Regions from separate parts of the Homo sapiens genome. Here region 2 is linked to region 1. Evidence: fine-mapped expression QTL. Tissue or cell type: stomach. Region 1 holds a variant in brackets; the other region holds the start of a gene. All regions are shown on one strand. Distances are between the middles of the regions.

The links. PIP is the estimated chance that this variant, and not a neighbour inherited with it, causes the effect.
Region 2: it holds the start of WARS2-AS1, and the variant in region 1 is fine-mapped to the expression of WARS2-AS1 in stomach (GTEx, PIP 0.93).

The regions. Positions count from the first base shown.
Region 1 is chr1:119,331,508-119,336,655 of GRCh38, reverse strand. The region is part of intron 2 of LINC01780 (long intergenic non-protein coding RNA 1780); the gene reads right to left. It also overlaps the pseudogene RNU1-75P. Among named protein-coding and RNA genes, the nearest start is that of LINC01780, 5.8 kb to the right of the region's middle. The variant G/A (reference allele first, on the strand shown) is at 1,994.
Region 2 is chr1:119,137,420-119,142,567 of GRCh38, reverse strand. It overlaps WARS2-AS1 (WARS2 antisense RNA 1), which reads right to left and starts at 2,172. Exons shown (of 7, transcript NR_125975.1): 1 at 1,775-2,172; 2 at 755-821. WARS2 (tryptophanyl tRNA synthetase 2, mitochondrial) reads left to right here and starts at 1,915. Exons shown (of 6, transcript NM_015836.4): 1 at 1,915-2,013. The coding sequence starts at 1,924. RefSeq lists an enhancer at 1,834-2,143.

The DNA of each region.
Region 1 (5,148 bases):
AATCACACACATGTAGTAGTCATTTTCTTTCCTCTGGAATTGAGAAAATATAGAACTTGAACTGGGAAATTCATTGTTCTAATGTTTGAGAGGGTGTGGATAGTAATCTTAAAAAATCAGCCAGTCACAGCTGATGTTGAGAAAGGGTAAACCACTAGTGGAATCAATTGGCTTTAGATGGAGGCAGCGAAACCTCCAATCAAATAGCTCACTAAATCCTAGTCTTGGCTCTGGCTCAAATCCCCTCACTAGAGTCTTAAAGTATGATGGGAAGCTTCTGGCGTTATACCTGGCACGGCACCACCCTGGGGTCCAGCTGGCCTTATAAAACTCTTTCACTCATACACAAGGCTGCTCCTGTTCACCATGCAGGGAAGGCACCCACTGTGTGCTCTCCTGGTGGATGCAGGTGGTAGCCAAGGTGGAAAGTCACGTTGACCCTCCAAAGCATAGGGCTTGGTACCTTGTGGGCACTCGGAGATCTCTGTCCTGGAAATGAATGAATGAAGGTACTTGTTCCATGCAGCTGAAAGTTTGGGCAGCTTTCCTTACCCTCTCCTGGAAGAAGACACAAGTCTGTGCACACTAAAGGGACATTTGGTGGGCACCCAAAGCTTGAGAGAGGTTGGCAGTAACAAAACTAACACCTATGTAATACCTGCTGAACGTGCCAGGCATAATTAGAAGCATTTTTAAGTTTTTAACGTGTTTAATCTTCATAATAATCCCATGAGGTATGCTCTGTGATTATTATTCCCATTTTACAGATAAAGTCAAGGCCCAAAGGAGTTCTGTAACTTGCCTAATGGTTAGGATGCTGGATGATCTGAATGCAGGCAGCCTGACTTTGGATCTCACCACCTTAACCACTCAATTATAGTGTACTTCAATGACCTATGACTCCTACCACAGGAGCAGACTTTGGGAGAAGATACCACTTGGTGTACTGTGCCACCGTCCCAGCATGAGACCAGAGCAGTTCTCAGTTTCCTGACACACTTGGGTAGGTTGGGCCTGGTGTTTCTGTTTCCTAATGGGGACACTGAGATGGAGAGCAGTTGTGTGTCTCACTCATAGTCACCAGGTTAACTGCGGCAGATCAGGAATCGGGTCTCCTGGTCCCTGCCATGCCGCTTGGGGCTCTGCAGCTCAGCCATTTGTGCCAGAGACACTCACCTAGCATACTTCTCAGCCCCGTCCCCACCAGACTCCTTTGCCCACGGCCAAAAATAGTGGCCATGCCTGACCAATCAACTGATAAGACACCTGCTTTGTGTGAAGGACTTTGGGCACTGGAATAAAAAGCCAGAAATGGAAGACTTTGAGGAACATTTAATCCAACCTCTCCTTTTGTGTCTGGAATTGGTGGGTTCTTGGTCTCACTGACTTCAAGAATGAAGCAGGGGACCCTCGCGCTGAGTGTTACAGTTCTTAAAGGCAGCGTGTCCAGAATTTGTTCCTTCTGATGTTCGGATGTGTTCGGAGTTTCTTCCTTGTGGTGGGTTCCTGGTCTCGCTGACTCAGGAGTGAAGCTGCATACCTTTGCTGTGACTGCTACAGCTCTTTTTTTTTTTTTTTTTTGAGACGGAGTTTCGCTCTGTCGCCCAGGCTGAAGTGCAGTGGCGCGATCTCGACTCACTGCAAGCTCCGCCTCCCGGGTTCACGCCATTCTCCTGCCTCAGCCTCCCGTGTAGCTGGGACTACAGGCGTGCGCCACCATGCCCAGCTAATTTTTTTTGTATTTTTAGTAGAGACGGGGTTTCACCGTGTTAGCCAGGATGGTCTCGATCTCCTGACCTCGTGATCCGCCCGTCTCGGCCTCCCAAAGTGCTGGGATTACAGGCGTGAGCCACCGTGCCCGGCCGTGACTGCTACAGCTCTTAAGGCGGCGCGTCTGGAATTGTTTGTTCCTCCCGGTGGGTTCGTGGTCTCGCTGGCTTCAGGAGTGAAGCTGCAGACCTTCCCAGTGAGTGTTACAGCTCATAAAGGTAGT[G/A]TAGACCCAATGAGTGAACAGCAGCAACATTTTTTGCAAAGAGCCAAAGAACAAAACTTCCACACTGCGGCAGGTGAGGCGAGAGGGTTGTGCCTGCTGGCTGGGGCAGCCTGCTTTTATTCTCTTATCTGGCCCCACCCACATCCTGCTGATTGGTCCATTTTACAGAGAGCCGATTGGTCTGTTTTACAGAGAGCTGAATGGTCCGTTTTGACAGGGTGCTGATTGGTGCGTTTACAATCCCTGAGCTAGACACAAAGGTTCTCCTAGTCCCCATCAGAGTAGCCAGATACAGAGTGTCCATTGGTGCATTCACAAACCCTGAGCTAGACACAGGGTGCTGATTGGTGTGTTTACAAACCTTGAGCTAGATACAGAGTGCCGACTGGTGTATTTACAATCCCTTAGCTAGACACAAAAGTTCTCCACATCCCCACTAGATTAGCTAGATACAGAGTGTCTACACCAAGGTTCTCCAAGTCCCCACCAGACTCAGGAGCCCAGCTGGCTTCACCCAGTGGATCCGGTACCGGTGCCGCAGGTGGAGCTGCCTGCCAGTCCCGTGCCATGCGCCCGCACTCCTCAGCCCTTGGGTGGTTGAGGGACTGGGAGCGGTGGAGCAGGGGGCGGTGCTCCTCGGGGAGGCTCCAGCCACACAGGAGCCCACGGCGGGAGGAGGCTCAGGCATGGTGGGCTGCAGGTCCCGAGCCCTGCCCCGCGGGGAGGCAGCTAAGGCCCGGCGAGAAATTGAGCACAGCAGCTGCTGGCCCAGGAGCTAAGCCCCTCACTGCCCGGGGTTCGCAGGCCTGCCGGCCGCTCAGAGTGCGCAGGCACTGAGCCCATGCCCACCCAGAACTCGCGCTGGCCGGCAAGCCCCATGAGCAGCCCTGGTTCCTGCCCGCGCTTCTCCCTCCACACCTCCCGGCAAGCTGAGGGAGCTGGCTCCAGCCTTGGCCAGCCCAGAAAGGGGCTCCCACAGTGCAGCCGTGGGCCGAAGGGCTCCTCAAGGGCGGCCAGAGTAGGCAGGCACCAAGGCCGAGAGCGAGGGCTGCGAGGGCTGCCAGCACGCTGTCACCTCCCAATTTCACAAATGGAGAAATTGAGGCAGCTCATCCAAGGTCCCAAACTACTTGGTAGCAGTCTGGAGCAGGGCCCAGGTCTCCCAACAAGACATGGCATATGCGTTTGCTACTCTGCCGTGCTGTGCTGTGCAGTGGCAATGGGAGATACCAAGAGCCTCCCTGTACTGTCTGTAGAGCCTCTCCTTTCAGCCTCTCACTGCCTCACTCCATGGGTCTGGCTGCAGCCTACTCACTGCCCCCGTGGCTGTCAGTGCACGGGGTAAGCCCTGACATGTGGAGGGAAATAGGCACCCAGACTAAGGGATTCTCCCCAGGCCTGTATATGAAAAGGATCCTCAGCAAGCCATCAGTTCCCACTGCCCTCGTCCCACTCCTCACCAGAAACTTAATTAATCATGTTTGCATCTGGATCCAGACAAGACAATAGCAGGGATGTGTTTTTGGTTAGGAACTGAAGCTGTATTCGCAAAGGAATGTTGATTAGTTAGTGGTCGGTATCATTTTTCATGCCTTTTTAAGTTACAAAAATTTTAATATCAAAGCATTTCTCCCTGCACCGCACGTATCTATTTCTCGTAAGTGCATTATGCTGGCATAATTTTCTTTTCCTTCCTGCAGGCTCTGTTTATGAGATGATCCATCAGGTTGTCTCAGAGTCTCCATCCAGCCCTTCAGCAACCAGAGGCATTCCAGGTGAGCTCTGAGCCCACGGCCCCTCCCCATGTGGAGGGGGAAGGAGAAAGGCAGGCTTAGGCTGGGATATGATACATTGTTGATCAGGGAAACAACAGTCACCCACTGCAGAGATAGCAGGCTCTCCCCTCTCCCCCGCATTTCCTGGGCCCTCATTATAAATGCTGCTGCTCTTTACAACAGGAGTGGGCCCCTGAAGAGAAGAAAAGGAAACGTCCCAAACCTCCTCCAGACCCGTAGATGTTGAGGTCAATCTGAATGCCTCAATTCAGTCTTCAATTCTGCACCAGGAAAATGCCCTCAATATGGGAAAATCTTTGAATGCAGGAAGCATGTCTCAATGTGTACAACATGCCCGTGTGTGCAGAACATGTCAAGTCACAGATGATAAATCATGGCAGAGAAGCAATGTGGGATCTATGTGGCACAGTCAGAAACCTGTCTGCGTGCTCAGCCCTCCAGCTAAACTTCCCTTTAGACAAAAGTGGTGAAGACGTAACAAAAGAGAGTAAGGTGCCTCCTCCTTCTGTTCAGTGACCTTTCCGAAGACAGGCCTGCAGTAACAAACGTGGCTTAGGCACTATGTGTACAGCTTGGACGGGATTGACCAGTGGGAACAAAATAACATGTTCTAAGATGCTCAGATGCAGGCTGACCTTCCCTCCAGCTGAGAAACCATCCTGTGGTCACTGATTTCCTGAATGCACTGGCCTGAGGGGATGGGGAGGGCCTGTTACAGGACAGGATCACCAGGGGGAATTCAGGGGATTCAGTACACATTTGCATCACATTGGTCCCCAAAGCAGTTTGGGTTTGTTGAGGCAGGGTTTGACTTGCTGAGAGCCCAGCCCCAGGTCATTGTTGTTACTCCAGACACTGGGAAATGTGGATTGTGGGGTGAGATACTGAAGCTGGGATTGGCTTGGAGACAGAGAGTACTCTGCACAACTCAACAGCAAAGTCACATTCCCAGAGAGCAACCAATTGATCCAAGAGTTATTTATTCAGAAAATAAACTGCAATTTTGTGCCAGGCACTGTGCTAGAGGTACACCACACTGGGCCCACCTACCTGCAGGCCTCACCCCATGGGGGATGGCCTGACTTGGTCTCATTATTTGTTCCTCTATCCCCCAGGCCTCTTCCTTGGTGCTGGCTAAGGGCTAGGCTGGATGTTTAGTTGTAGCCCTAAGGAAAAATTTTAGTATGTCCACTTTTATACACAGAGGCACAGATGGTAAGCAGTTATGAAAGTTGTCCGAATCAAAATGGAGTAATTTATGTTAAAACCCTGGCAAATGGAGCCAGGGAAGGCCATCAAGGGAGAGTTCTTACACATGAATGCCTGATAAGAACTGTCACAATATTTATTTGGCAGGGG
Region 2 (5,148 bases), 190 kb after region 1:
TGGGACTATGTCTTGGAAATACCTCCCACGGAAATATTATTGGTCATAGGAGTCTGCAGATACGACTAAGAACTACTTCTTGAAGAAATAAAGTAGGTACACCCTTTGACAGCTTTTGGTGCACCATAGTCTTATTGCTAGGTTTTATCTTGCTATCTAGATGACTAAAGATGTCAGAAAGCTAATCTTGCTAATTGCTAGGGTCATGTAATCTCATTAATAAAATATATGTAAAACACTGTACTATAATGCTTTGCTCTATGTATGAGTAAAACATGTAGGGCATTTATTAAACTGCATTTTACAAGGCATAACATATATCCCCCTTCCCCTGGCAAGGTTTGTTTCCAGGGTCTCAGTAATATCACATTCTTTGGGTTCTACAACACCTCTTGGCTCCTTTATTTCCATCATCTGGCTACTTTCACTCCACAAACTCTATCTGATGGTCTCAAGGATTTCCTTGGTTTCAATTACCATCTGTTTGGTAGTTCAAATCTCTTCTGAGCTCCAGACCCATGTATCTATTTAATGGGCATCACATTTTGGAAGTACTACAAGCACCTCAAATTTAACAGCCAAAACCAAACTGATCAGCTTTGTTGAAGACTATAACTTGATTTCCTAGTTTTTTTTTTGCCTTCATCCCTTTCCTGCTCACTTCTAAATTACACCAATTATACTTGAACTTCACCAGTACTTTGTATACCTACAAGATTATCCTATATGGTTTTAATTTACTGTTTTGTCTTACCCTGGTAGATTTCAGCTCCTTTATAGGCATCTCTTATCTCCTACCTCTCCTTGGTAATTTTCAGTAGCTGGATGAATTATAAACAAAACACATAAAGGAATTGTCATGAATTTCTTCCAGTTATATTTTTACTGAAACACTCGTTATCTGTCTGGGAGATTTTTAGGTGAATTAACAGAAGCAGAAAAACTGTATTAAACTTTCTCATAACCCCAAACAAAACAATTTCTTCCATCAGGTATAACCTTCCTGCAGCCTTCCCTAGACTAGGTTGAAACACCACAGTCATAACCACTCCTCCTTAAAACTTGCGGTGCTTGCTTCTTTAACACCTATTAAGTGTACATCATTTATTTATCCGCTACTCTATTAGACTGTACACAACTTGAAGACAAGATATGTCTTTCTCTGTACCTTCAGTGCCCAGCACATTACGGTAGGGTTCAACAAAGTTTACAGGACGAATGAAATAAGGCCACATAAGTCCAGTGCGGTGGCACATGCCTGTAATCCCAGCACTTTAGGAGGCCGAGGCAGATGGCTTGGCTTGAGCTCAGGAGTTTGAGAGAGCCTGGGCAACATGGTGAAACCCTGTCTCCACCAAAATACAAAAATTAGCCGGGCGTGGTGGCGCACCCTTGTGGTCCCAGCTACTCAGGAGGCTGAGGCAGGAGAATAGCTTGAGTCTGGGAGGTGGAGGTTGCAGTGAGCCGAGATCGCGCCATTGCACTCCAGCCTGGGCGAGAGTGAGACCTTGTCTCAAAGAAAAAAAAGGGAAATGAGGCCACACATGTCTAAAAAGACCACTTATATTACCCTCTAAGAGAACTGGGAGTTTCTAAACAAACTTTTTAAAGGTTGCCTTCACATAGCTAAGATCAGAAATGCAGCCTACTTGACTTTCTTCCAGTCTAAAGCGTTGCTACTAATAACCCCCAAGGAAATTCTCCTTCCAGGAAGGCTGAGCAGACAAGGGATCCAGGGAAAAACACTAAAGCCCCACCCCGCTCCTGTCCCCACCTGCTCGGCAAGAACTGCAGTCCGCCCGATAGCGGCTGCGCTGCGCAGCCTGGAGGCCCAAGCCGCGCCCAGCAAGCAGGAGTCGCGAGACTGGGATTGGCTCTCTGAACAGACGTCATTCCAAACAAGACGGCTCCGCCCTTCTCAAGATGGCGCTGCACTCAATGCGGAAAGCGCGTGAGCGCTGGAGCTTCATCCGGGCACTTCATAAGGGATCCGCAGCTGCTCCCGCTCTCCAGGTAACCAAAGACGGCCCTTCCCTCCGCGGCTTCCCATCCCGCGAGGTTCTTCTCATCCCACTGCCCTCTATTTATTTCTCTCCTCCCGCTTCTTAGGGAAAGTACATGCCTTCCCTCGCCTAAGGTCTACTCGTCTATGACTGTCGGCCTGCTCAGAGCGTAGTGACGTTGCAAGGATACGTGATGACGTAAAGGTTTCTTGGTGGAAAAAGCGCGCCGCTTTCTGACCTCTTGCCGCCACCTCCAGTTCTGGGAGCGGAGCGCCGCCGCTGTTGCCGGGCAACGCGGTGAGCCTACCCCGCGTGTGATGTTTTCAGAGACGGGTTGTTTTAGAGACTGCTCTTCTTGTGGTCTTATTACTGTTTTTACCCTCCTTACCCTAACAACACGCTAAGGGGCTATCGGAGAGAGTAGAGAAGTTTTGTTAGGCATTGGGCAGCTTGGGTCGGGGCAGCAGGTTGGCAGTGTGGTACTTGAGCAAGTGTCAGTGCATCTTCCATTCTGGTTGCTCCTGGTGGCTCCACAGCACTGCTCTATCTAGCAGGCTGTGAAAGAGTGACCGCAAGCTGCTACAGAGTTTGTCCTGTCCTGCGCTTGACAACACTGCTGTTACCATTAATCTCGTCGTACGGAGACCATGTCGCGGCCTGGTCTTATTGGGAATTGTCTTAAATATTTGGAATTTTACCCTCATAGCAAAAAAGTCAGGGGGAGGGGATACCCTTTCAGTTATTCAGGATTTTACCAAACGTCTTCCAAGTACAGTCTCAGTGGCAAGCACTTTGACATACTTTATCTACGGGAGATATATTCTGGGAACTAGAGAGAAAGGAGAGAATGTGATTTTATTAGGTAATTTCCCGGCATCATTTGCATATGTATTGCCATAATGAGTAGGTGTGAGGATGTCGCACCTATTGTAACTGTTGTGTTGAAAACAGCGCTAGACAGGAAGGTAGCCTAGAGGTCAAGGGTTTGGTCTGCCACTTGACAGCTGTGTGACAAGTCACAATCTCTCTGGGACTTTTCTTCTTTTTTTGCTCATATTGAGTGGAGGAAGAGAGCTGGACTGATTGACACGTTAATGTTCTTTCAACCTCTGGAAAATCTATAGTTCCATGATTATGAAGCCAAAACAAAGCCAATGAGAGTAATTATGAAAACCAAAATTTAAGTTCAACTTATTTTTCTAGTCATGTCATAAATTTTTTGAACTTCCGTTTTTTATTAATGTGAGCCTCACAAAATTCTTATAAGCTAATATATTAATATATACCGGAAAGCTGCTTGTCAGCAAACAACTATTCAAATGTCACCTTAAATTTCAGCAGCAATGTTAGGTAAGACAATTCAAAATTAGATAAATTTATCAAAAATTCCTCTCCTTGAAATTTGAGGGTTTGATTCTGCAGAACTAGAATGAGATGATTATTTATAATTTATAGCACATTAACACCTATGCTATCAAAGTAGCTAAGCCGTAGACCCAAACTTCCCCTTATTCCAAACTAAAGAATTGAAGATGTCTTGAGAATAGAGAATCAAAGAGAGAGAGAAAAAAAAGACAAACTGCAGCCTGCTAATGACTGCCCAGGGAAGTTTAAGACACTAAGTCATTATAAATGCTAAAGAAAAAATTTCTTAAACCTCTACTATTGTTTCAGTGGCATTTATGAATAGGGCTATTAAAGTTAATTATTAATCTAGATTGTTTCAAGATGTAGAATTTCCAGTACCGATGAATGTTTCTAAACCTTTAATTTAGCTTTGAGTAGAATAAGTATTAAATGTGAGAGTATTTTTTTAAAGTATAAATCTACATATAATTTCAGTCATTGAAAATGATGGTTTGAAAGATTAATGTGGTTTTTTGAAAGACTGAGAAAAGATACAAAATTGTGTTCATAGTGTTATTACGATGTTATGTTTATATATAAGTGTTTATATAAACGTATACATAGAAAAAAAGCCTGGAAGGGAACAAACATTTTTAACTTTTTTATTTTGCTTTGGCCTTCCTAAATAGTGGGTTAAAAGTTATTTGTTTCCTTTTATAGCATTACATATTTTTCACATGTCTAAATTGAAGACACACACTTTTTAATAACCAGAAAAACGTTTTGAAATCATAAATCTTTATACAGATCTTTAGTCATTAATATCATTTGTGATATTTTAGGATTCTGAGGAAGATACTTGTCCCACAATGCTGTTATTAAAATGGCCTTAGAAAAGGACTACTAAAAATTTATGGCCACTTTTCCTGTATGTATCTTCTTTTTCTCTTGAAAAGCTTCCTTTGAAGTCAAAGGGATTTTGTGAACAGATGCAGAAATATGTGAAAGAGGCATTGGATTCTTAAACCAGATGCATTAGACATTTTTATGATATCTCATAACCTTTGTAGAAAAAAATTATTTTGCAAGAGTATAGTATAATGGGAAAAAATGTATATTTATCATATGAATGGTTCCATCAAAAACCAAGAAATAGCCAAGTTAGTTTTTATTAGCCTTGGCTGTGCACTTACTCCCTTAGGTGTAAAGCAAAAGTGAATGAGCCATAACAGTGCTATGTTAGAAACTCTAACTAATAAAGTGTTGTGATTCCTAAGTTGTTTTAATGGTTTTTAGTGTTTTCTTTTTTTAAAACAAAATCTTGGGTAAAAATGTTGGCATAGGGCATCTTTGCTTATCTCAGAGGATGCAGATGTAAACTCAAGTTGAAAATAAAACAGGGAGAAACAGGAATAACAGCACATCACTCCATACTCATTATGGGATGTCTACAATTTATATGAAAACGGTTTATTTTGCCAGGTGTTGCCTGACAGAAAACTGTTGAAATCTGACAAGATGAGCGTAGTCATAAAGTCAGAGGAGTTAAGATCTGACATGTTCTGTTTAAATGTTGATGGTATTAGGTAAATTTAAGCCTGTCATCATTGGCCAAACACAGAATCCATACTTCTTTAAGCACTAAGTCATGATTGTATTGTGCAAAGAGTGAAATATTGATGGTTAGTAGATTTTTGCAAAAGTATTTGTTATTCAGTTGAAGTATGATAAAGTGTCCACATTTTATTGCAGTTGAACATGTTTCATTATTAGCGGTTCCTAGTCTGGGTTTGGCCAG